Regions from separate parts of the Homo sapiens genome. Here region 1 is linked to region 2. The links come from fine-mapping of genetic effects on gene expression. Tissue or cell type: CD4 T cells. Region 2 holds a variant in brackets; the other region holds the start of a gene. All regions are shown on one strand. Distances are from middle to middle.

Evidence for each region. PIP is the estimated chance that this variant, and not a neighbour inherited with it, causes the effect. A credible set is the group of variants that fine-mapping cannot tell apart.
Region 1: it holds the start of WFDC11, and the variant in region 2 is the best candidate, but not a certain one, in a credible set for the expression of WFDC11 in CD4 T cells (CEDAR, PIP 0.64).

What each region holds. Positions count from the first base shown.
Region 1 is chr20:45,668,044-45,673,275 of GRCh38, reverse strand. WFDC11 (WAP four-disulfide core domain 11) reads left to right here and starts at 3,037. Exons shown (of 5, transcript NM_147197.2): 1 at 3,037-3,098.
Region 2 is chr20:46,334,336-46,339,567 of GRCh38, reverse strand. No RefSeq gene overlaps it. Among named protein-coding and RNA genes, the nearest start is that of SLC35H1, 27 kb to the left of the region's middle. RefSeq lists an enhancer at 1,544-2,045. The variant T/G (reference allele first, on the strand shown) is at 2,915.

The sequences.
Region 1 (5,232 bases), 670 kb after region 2:
CATGCTGAGGAAGAAAATGAATTGTTGAAATGACAACAAATGATTTAGAATGTCACATAAACTTAGTTGATAAAGCTATCAACTTTATCAACTTTATCAACTTTATCAAATCCTTATGAGAGGATTTGAGAGGATTGACTCTAATTTTGAAAGAAGTTCTACTGTGGGCAAAATGCTATCAAACAACATTGCATGCTACTGCACAATTGTTTGTGAAGGGCAATCAATCAATGTGGCAAACTTCATTGTCTTATTTTAAGAAATTTCTGCAGCTACCCTAACTTTCAGCAGCCACCACCCTGATGAGTCAGCAGCCATCAACACTGAGGCAAGGCCTTCCACTAACAAGAAGATTTTGACTTGCTGAAGGTTCAGATGATGTTAACATTTTGAGCAATAAAGTATTTTTCTTCTTTTTTTTTGCCTTGCCAACTTTTAGGTTCAAGGAGTACATGTGCAGGTTTGTTAGATGGATAAATTGTGTGTTGTGGGAGTTTGGTGTACAGATAATTTTGCCATCCAGGTAATAAGCATAATCCATGATAGGTAGTTTTTCAATCCGACTCTCATACCAACTTCCACCCTAAAATAGGTCCCAGTGTCTAGTGTTCCCTTCTTTGTGCCCGTGTGTACTCAATGGTTAGCTCACACTTATGTGAGAATGTGTGGTATTTGGTTTTCTGTTCCTGCTTAATTTGCTTAGGATAATGGCCTCCAGCTCCATCCATGTTGCTGCAAAGGCCATGATCTCATTTTTAAAAATAGGTAGTATTTCATGGTGTATACATACCACATGTTCTTTATCGAGTCCACCATTGATGGGCACCCTAGGTTGATTCCATGTCTTTGCTATTGTGAACAGTGCTGTGATGAACATACGCAGGCATATGTCTTTATGGTAGAACAATTTCTATTCTCTTGGATATATACTTAGTAATGGAATTGCTGGGTCAAATGGTAGTTCTATTTTAAGTTCTCTGAGAAATCTCCAGACTGCTTTTCACAGTGGCTGAAATAATTTACACCACCAGCTCTGCACAAGCATTCCCTTTTCTCCCTCACCAGCCATTCTGACTGGTGTGAGATAATATCTCATTGTGGTTTTGAATTGCATTTCCCTAATGATTAGTGATACTGAGCATTTTTATCATATGCTTTTTGGCCACATTATGTCTTCTTTTGAGAAGGGTCTGTTCATGTCCTTTACCCATTAAAATTTTTTTTTGTTTTTTGCTTGTTGATTTAAGTTCTTTATAGATTCTGGATATTAGATCTTTGTTGGATGCATAGTTTGCAAATATTTGTTCCCATTCTGTAGGTTGTCTTTTACTCTGTTGATAGTTTCTTTTCCAGTGTAGAAGCTCTTTAGTTTAATTAGGTCCCACTTGTCAATTTTTGTTTTGGTTGCAATTGCTTGTAGAGTTTTTATCATGAAGTCTTTGCCTGGGCCAATGTCCAGAATGGTATTTTCTAGATTTTCTTCTAGGGTCTTTATAGCTTTAGATTTTACATTTAAGTCTTTAATCCATCTTGTATTGATTTTTGTATGTGGTAAAAAGTGGGGGTCCAGTTTCATTCTTCTGCATATGGTTAGCCAGTTATGCCAGTAGCATTTATTGAATAGGAAGTCCTTTTCCCATTGATTGTTTTTGTCAGCTTCATTGAAGATCAGACAGTTGTAGGTGTGTAGCTTTATTTCTGGGTTCTCTATTCTGTTTCATTTGTTAATGATTCTCATTTTGTACCAGTACCATGCTGTTTTGGTTACTGTAGGCTTGTAGTATAGTTTGAAGTCTGGAAGTATAATGCCTCCAGCTTTGGTCTTTTTGCTTAGAATTGTTTTGGCTATCCAGGCCCTTTTTGCTTCCAAATGCATTTTCAAATGGCTTTTTCTGATTCTGTGAAAAATGTTGGTAGTTTGTATATAGGAATAACATTGAATCCGTAAATTGTTTTGGGCAGTATGACTATTTTAACAATATTGACCCTTCCTATCCATGAGCATAGAATGTTTTTCTGTTTGTTTGTGTTGTCTCTGATACAGTGTTTTATAATTCTCATTGTAAAGCTCTTTCACCTCCCTGTTTAGCTGTATTCCTAGGTATTTTATTCTTATTGTGGCTATTGTGAGTGGGATTGCATTCTTGATTTGACTCTCAGCTTGGACATATTTCTATGCATTTCATACGATTGAAATGCTGCTAGAAATGCTGATTTTTGTACATTGATTTTGTATCTTGAACCTTTGCTGAAGTGGTTTATCAGATCTAGAAGCTTTGGGCAGAGACTACAGGGTTTTCTAGGCTTATATTGTCTGTGAATATTGTCTGTCAAACATAGTTTGACTTCCTCTCTTCCTATTTAGATGACTTTTATTTCTTTCTCATGCATGATTGCTCTGGCTAGGACTTCAATACTATATTGAGTAGGAGTGGCAAGAGTGGGCATCCTTGTCTTGTTCCGCTTCTCAAGAGGAACGCTTCCAGCTTTTGTCAATTCATTATGATGTTGGCTGTGGGATTGTCAGAGTTGACTGTTACTATTTTGTGGTATGTACCTTTGATGTCTGGTTTGTTGAGGGTTTTTAACATGAAAAGATGTTAAATTTTATCAAAAGCCTCTTCTGCATCTATTAAGATGATCTTTTTTTAAAGTTTGGTTTATGTGATGAATCACATGTATTGATTTGCATATGTTGAATCAATCTTGCTTCCCAGGGATAAAGCCTACTTGATTGTGGTGAATTCATTTTTTTGCGGGGCAGGGGGGAGGGGGGGTGGGTATTGCAGGGAGCTCCCAACAGGAAACAATGTGGTGGATTAGCTTTTTGATATACTGCTGGATTTGGTTTGCTAGTATTTTGTTTAGGATTTTTGCATCTATGTTCATCAGTGATATTGGTCTGAAGTTTTCTTTTTCTGTTGTCTCTCTGCCAGGTTTTGATGTCAGAATGATGCTGACTTCATAGAATGAATTAGGGAGGAGTCCCTCCTCCTCAAGTTTTTGGAATAATTTCAGTAGGATTGGCACCAGCTCTTCTTTATATGTCTGGTAGAATTTGGCTGTGAATCCATCTGGTCCAGGGCCTTTTCTGGTTGGTAAGTTTTTTTTTAATTACTGATTAAATTTTGGTACTTGTTATTGGTCTGTTCAATTTCATCCTGGTTTAATCTTGGGAGTTTGTATGATTCCAAGAGGTTATCAATTTTGTGTAGGTTTTCTAGTTTGTGTGCATAGTGGTGTTTGTAATAGTCTCTGATTTTTGTTTGTATTTTTATGGGGTCAGTGGTAATATCCCCTTTGTTATTTTTGATTGTGTTTATCTGGATTTTCTCTTTCTTTAGTAGTCTAACTAGTGGTCTACCAGTCTTATTTATTCTACAAAGAACCAACTTTTGGTTTCATGGATCTTTTGTATGGTTTCCCTTATCTCCATTTTGTTCAGTTCAGCTCTAATTTTGGTTATTTCTTTTCTTCTACTAGCTTTGGGGTTGGTTTGCTCTTGTTTTTCAAGTTCCTCTAGGTGTGATGTTAGGTTAATTGGAGATATTTCTAACTTTTTGATGTGGGCATTTAGTGCTATAAACTTTCCTCTCAACACTGGTTTAATTGTGTCCCAGAGATTTTGGTATGTTGTATCTTTGTTCTTATTAGTTTCAAAAAACTTCTTGATTTCTGTCTTAATTTTGTTGTTTACCAAAAAGTCATTCAGGAACAGGAGCATGTACTAACAAGCACATGTAAGTGTGTGGTTTTGAGAGCTCTTGGTATTGATGTCTATCAATAAACTATTTTTGGATTAAGATATGTACACTGTTTTTATACATAATGCTGTCACACACTTAGTAGATCACAGTATAGTGTAAACATATCTTTTATATGCACTGAGAAACCAAAATATTTGTTTGACTCACTTTATTAGGGTGGCCTGGAACTGAATCTGTAATATCTATGAGGTATGCCTGTGCTATAATTTTTCCATGTGATTTAATGGAGTTTTCCAGAAGTGAAATGAGTTACCCAAGGTCATGGAGTTAGCAAATGATAAAGATGGTTTTTTAATTTTAATTTTAATTTTTTAGTATCTGCCTCTGTAAAGATGGGTTTTAAGTTTACATCGGATGAGTGTAAGGCCTGTGATTGTGACACTAGACAACTGTGAATAGTCAATAGCCTGCTGGCTCCTCCGACCTACCATCTGAATCCTCTGAATGTCTATATCAGGGTCAAGATGAAGGAAATGGTCTGACATTTTCAGACCATTTCTTTGTTGGTGCAAGTATAGCCTAAACATTATGAAGAGAGAATTGGTAATATTTATGCACAGATTGAATTATCTGTATTTCTACTTTTATTGGCTTTCCCAAGGAATAAATAAATAAATACTCAAGGATTTAGTTATCATTATGTAACTAATAGTGAATTTCTACAATAGGGAAAAACTGAAACCACCAAGCTTGTCAACAACTGGTGATTAATTGGCAGAGTAATCTACCAATCTATGAAATTTTTGAAAATATTTAGGAGTACAGGAAAATATTTATTGTAAATGTTAAACTTAAAAATAGTCACAGGATTATCCACTATATAAAAATATATATGTACATAAGAAAAAGTCTACTAGAATATATGCACAAATGTTAGCATAGGTTGACAAGATTAACAATTATTTTTAAATTTAATTGTCATTTTCATATTTTTACAAAATTTATGCACTAAGCATGAGTTGCTCTTTTATTAGTACAAGAGCAAAAAATGACATCTTGAAAAGAAATCTTTTTCTTTTTTTTTTCCTACGGAGAGAAGTAAATGATATAAATTGATGAGGGGTCCCAGGAATAGGACAAGGCCAAGAGTATATTGTAAAGTGGGAAGAGGCAAGGAAATAGAACTAGAGAAGAAAATGTTAGGACAATCTACAGGCTTTGCTTCTCTCCCACTTTCCCACTTTCTCATCCCAACCAAACAACTCTGGGAATATTCCTAGACCCAGTCAAGACTTACTCAGAGCCTCTCACAGTCAGCTCAGCTCCTGAAATTTCCCTTCCCATTATGCCCCTCTGCTAGCACTGTAAGGGTATCTAGAGAGAGTGCCTTGGTGATGGGAATAAGCCCAAGATGTATCGTGGCTCTGAGGCCCAGGAAAAGCTGTGGGCTTCACCATCTGGCATACCTGGCTCTGAATTCACTTCCTTTCAAATCTTGTTTCTACCACTTATTGGCTGTGTGGCC
Region 2 (5,232 bases):
TAAGCCAAAGCAGAAGGGTGAAAGTTAATGGCTCTTTTAGTTCCTCATAAGCTCTGCAGGCTCCAGTCTCAAGATGCATCCTGAATGGGGCCACTTCTCCAGTCTCAGCCTGCTCCAAGCCACGTGATCTTTCACTGGATGCTGCAGACCCCTAGCTCCTGGTCTTCCTGCTTCCCCTCCTACCCACTACTCAGTGCCCCATTCTCTGCCCCACAGCCAAAGGGATCCTTCTAATTGAGAAATCTGAATGCATCACGCCTGACTCAGAACCCTTCCGTAGCATCCCACCTTGCTGGGAATACAATCCCGAGTCCTCACCAAAGCCAGACCTTACATCATGTGTGGTCCATGCGCCTCTCTGTCTTCTCCCTTCGCTGGTCACTTTGTTCCAGCCACCTTGGCCTCATTGTTCCTTCTTACCCCAGAGCCCTTAGACTTGCTGTTCCCTCTGCCTGCAATGAATTTGACTCAAATCTTCGCATGGCAGCTCCTTTGCCCACTTTATGTTGCTGATCAAATACCACCTCCCCGGAGAGGCTTCCTTGACCACTCCAGCTAAAAACCCGCCCCTCCTCCCCATCCATCTCCACTCCAGGAGTTAATGCATCTGGGGCCATGGACCCCTTGGCCCTGGTGAAGCCCTTCTCAGAATAATGATTTTAAAGGCATAGACGAAAATACATAGATTTATCAAGGCAGCCAATTATATAGAAATCGTTTTCAAAATATTTACAAAACAAATGAGTGATACAGTACTAGATGCACTTCTTTATTAATGCATTAAATAACAAGATCTCGTGGCAGTTCTATTAACCACAACAATTTTGAAGCAGTGATGAGTGTCAATGATGTTTCAAAATGTATGCAACAACTGTAATGTGATAGGAAATATCTGATTTCTGTTGGTGACAAAGTCACAGGCACTGCTAATACTACCGTGGTATGTTGCCAACATTTATAATTGAAGAAAAATGCGATATTTTAGTTACAGGTTAGTGAGATAAAAATATAATTTTTTTCCTCCTCTAACTTCACTGACCCCCTGAATTCTATCTCTAGATGCCTTGGGGCAGGGGGAGGGTCTGGTTCTTTTTTTTTTTTTTTTATAAGTCCCTTTCACTACCCAACATCATACATTTATTCGTCAACTTGCTTTCTGTCAATTTTTCCCAGAAGAGCAGAGATTTTATCTGTTCTGTTCTCTGCTGTATTTTCAGGACCTAGAACATCTGCCAGGCACATAGTTGATCAACAAATATTTTTTAAATAAATGAATAAGCAATAGAGGAGGCTGGAAAGACAGGGAGGCTTGAGGCAGATGCGAGGGGCCTTGAAAGCCAAGCACAGGAGCTCGGCTGTGACTGGTGGTGATGGACTCACCCTGGGAGGGGACGCCAGCCTGGGAGAGGTCACTGTGCCCAGGGCAGCCAGGCTAATAGGTGGCGTGACTGGGGGCGTGAGCAGACTGGCTGTGACCACCTTCCAAAGGCAGCTTTCAGAGGGAGGCCCAGGCACACACGAGTCCCTGCATCAGCTGTGGATGTCGGCAGCCACTCCACTCCCTGCTCTCCCCGCTCCTCCTCTGGTCCCTTGGAGGTCAAGCAGAAACTTGGAGAAGCCAGGCTTACAGCCCTGTCATCATTCTTCAGCGTTTCCCAGGCAGTAATAGTGTGCCAGGCACCAAGGGCAGGGCCCACGGGGCTCTGGGGAAGGAGAGCCCCAGAGGTCATGATGCACCGCGGGGACGTCTCCACGGCAGCTATTGCAGACAGACCCAGTGTGTTGGACCCAGGAGCCACAGGTCACCCCTCCCCAACTGGGGCTGGATATTCAGGGCCACGAAGGAGAAGCCAGGGAAATAGCCAGCTTCTGGGATCAGACCCACTTGGGTGGAATTTCAGCTTGGCTGCTTGTTTACTAATTGCATGCGGTTGAGCAGGTCACATAACCACTCCAAGCCTTGGTCTCCTTTTTTTTTTCCTCGAGACAGGGTGTCACTCTGTCTCCCATGCTAGAGTGCAGTGGCGCAATCTTGACCCACTGCAGCCTCAACTTCCAGGGCTTAAGCGATCCTTCCACTCAGCCTCCCAGGTAGCTGGGACTACAGGCATGCACCACCAGGCCTGCCTAATTTTGTAGCTTTTTGTAGAGCCAGGGTCTCCCTATGTTGCCCAGGCCGGTCTATAACTCCTGGACTCAAGTGATCCTCCTACCTGAGCTTTCCAAAGCACTGGGATTACAGGTGTGAGCCACCGCGCCCAGCTCAGTGTCCCTTTCTAAAATGAGAGTGGTTTTTTCTACATCATAGATTTTGGGTGAGGATTTAATGTGGGAAAATAACAGATCTAAAGCAGCCAGCTCAATGCCAGATGCATGGTAGATGCTCAACAAATGGTTGCCCTTGTCCTTGTGAAAATAGCAAAATGACTTGACAAGGAGGCCAGTAGTCCTCTGAAGCCAGCATCCCTGCATAACCTGCCTCAACACCCTGCCCAAAACGGAGTAGGGGGAGAATAAGGTGGTAACCTGGGAGCCAATAAGCTGGGAATGAAGAGAAAAGACATGTTTTGGAACCATGTCTGGATTCAAATCCCAAGCTCTGCAGTTTACAGCTGTGTGACCTCAGGTAAACCACATCACCTCTCTGAACCTCACTTTTCTTTTTCATAAAACAAAGGTAATCCCTTCTTCTCACAGTGCTGTGAGGGTTACTGGACAAGTGTGCACAGAATGTGTGAAAGACCTCTGGGACAGGCCCTGACCCGAGGTCAGCACTCAGTCAACAGCAGCTTGGAATACGTGATCACAGCCCAGCCCAGAGAGGGAACCAAGGAGGATACAGATCATAGGATTAATCCCTTGCATTTGTCAAGTGTTTCACACTGTGGAAGGAGCACTCACTCACAACCGTCTT[T/G]GCATCTGAGCCTCACTTCAGCACTTTAGGAATGAGAGGATGGAGAGTTTTTAACTTTTAAGTTCAGGGGTTACAAGTGCAGATTTGTTGTATAGGTAAACCCATGTCTTGAGGGTTTGTTGTACAGATTATTTTGTCACCCAGATACTAAGCCTAGCACCTATTAGTTATTTTCCCCTGCTCCTGTCCCTCCTCCCACCCTCCACCCTCCAACAGGCCCCAGTATGTGTTGTTCCCCCTTTGGGTCCATGTGTTCTCATCATTTAGCTCCCACTTGTAAGTAAGAACATGCAGTATTTGGTTTTCTGGTCCTGCGTTAGTCTGCTAAGGATGATGGCCTTCAGTTCCATCCGTATCTCTGCAAAGGACATGATCTCGTTCCTTTTTTATGGCTGAAGTACCGAGAGTTTAATTTTTTTTTTTTTTTTTTTTTTGAGACGGAGTTTCACTCTGCTGCTCAGGCTGGAGTGCAGTGGAGCGATCTTGGCTCACTGCAACCTCCGTCTCCCGGGTTCAAGCGATTCTCCTGCCTCAGCCTCCCAAGGAGCTAGGATTACAAGTGTGCACCACCATGCCCGGCTAATTTTTGTATTTTTAGTAGAGACGGAGTTTCACCATGTTGGCCAGGCTAGTTTCGAACTCCTGACCTCAGGTGATTCACCCGCCTTGGCCTCCCAAAGTGCTGGGATTACAGGCGTGAGCCACCATATCTGGTCCTTGATCTACATTTGACAAAAGAGACACAGAGCTGTGGTGGCACTGGACTCTCAGAAGCAATCTGCTCAAAGGTCACCAGCCAGTAAGGTTTGGGGCAGGATATGAAGCCAATTATCTCCTTTCCTGTCTCTTTTCAAAATAGACACTCATTCATTCACTCAAGAGATGGTCCCAAGCTAAGCCCCAGGGAACTGGCAATAAATAAGGTAGACATAGCACCTGCCCTCAAGGAACTTCGAGTCCCGTGGACTCAGGATGCTCCCCCCACACTTCACCGATTTGAAGGGAGACCTATTTTTGCTAGATTTTCCTTCAAAGAAGGAAGGCAAGATCTAGCAATCTTGCCCACTCGCAATCTTGCATCACTTGCCCAAGGTCACTCAGCATCAGATCTAGATGACAGATAGGGAAGTGCCTTGAGTCTAGAGTTATGGCCAGGAATAGGAGCGTTCTCTGTCCTTGGGGATGACATCCACTCACTAATAAGCCCAGAGATAGACACTAGGATCCCAGGATGAATAAGAGTCCTAAAATGAAGGATTCCACAGCCAAATGCACTGGGAAAAGCTACACCATCTCCACCCCTCCCTGCAAGTCTGCTGCTCCTGAACACACTGTAGGCTCTCTGAAAATTTCTACAGAAAGAAACCACTTAACTCGATGTTTCTCAAATGTACTTGACCATGTGAACCTTTTTTTCCAGCCACACCTACTGAATTTGGAGTATGATAGGCAGAGGAAAGAACACAGGCTCTGGATGGGATCAAACTGTCAAGATATTAAAACACAGAGGAGGGAAGGTCACTTGCCCAGGTCACTCAGCATCAGATCTAGAGCCTGGGTCTCCATGCTGTTGCTAACATGAGAAGATCCTTAAGGATATTCTGCCTGGCCTCCTCTCTCAGAGAGGTGGCCCTGACAACCTGCTATGTGGTAGTTCATTCTGGAGCTGCTGATTCCTTCCTAGCCTTTGTGCAAATTAAAAGAAGGTACCACCTTCTTCTGGGCCAACAAAATCCCATGTCAGAGCACATGGATTGCAAAAGTGTAGTATGGGCTGGATTTCAGCCCCCACTTGCCCCCTTAGCCAAGCACCCTGGTGCAGGACACAACCTGTGCAACTGTACATGGCCACCCTTATTAGCCCTTTCCTCATTCCTCCTCACTCATTCTACCCTTGGCCACTTCACGTGAGGGGCGCCCTCCCCTCAGTGCTGGGCTGAGGCTGGTGTGGGAACAGCCCAGTTGTTGGGGCTGTACTTCCAAACCCCAAAGCAGCATCAGCCAAAGGTGCTGACTCAGCAAACCTTAATTTATCTCACAGGCCAGGGGTGCGCGTGAAGCAATTAGTGAAATAATGGTTATGTCGCACTAAAAATTATTTATAGAGTCACCGTGCACACAGCTGTGATTAAATTAGACAACCAGGGGGACTTTAACTGCTGGCGGAACCAGCATCCCAGGCCCGGGCTGCAGCTGGCTGGGGGTGGGGCAGGGTCATGCTTCTGGTCTGCTCACCCACTCCAGGCAGCTGAGCCAACCCTGACCCAGGCCAGGACATAGGGGGTCTACCTGGGCAGGGGTCTTGGGAGGAATCCCTG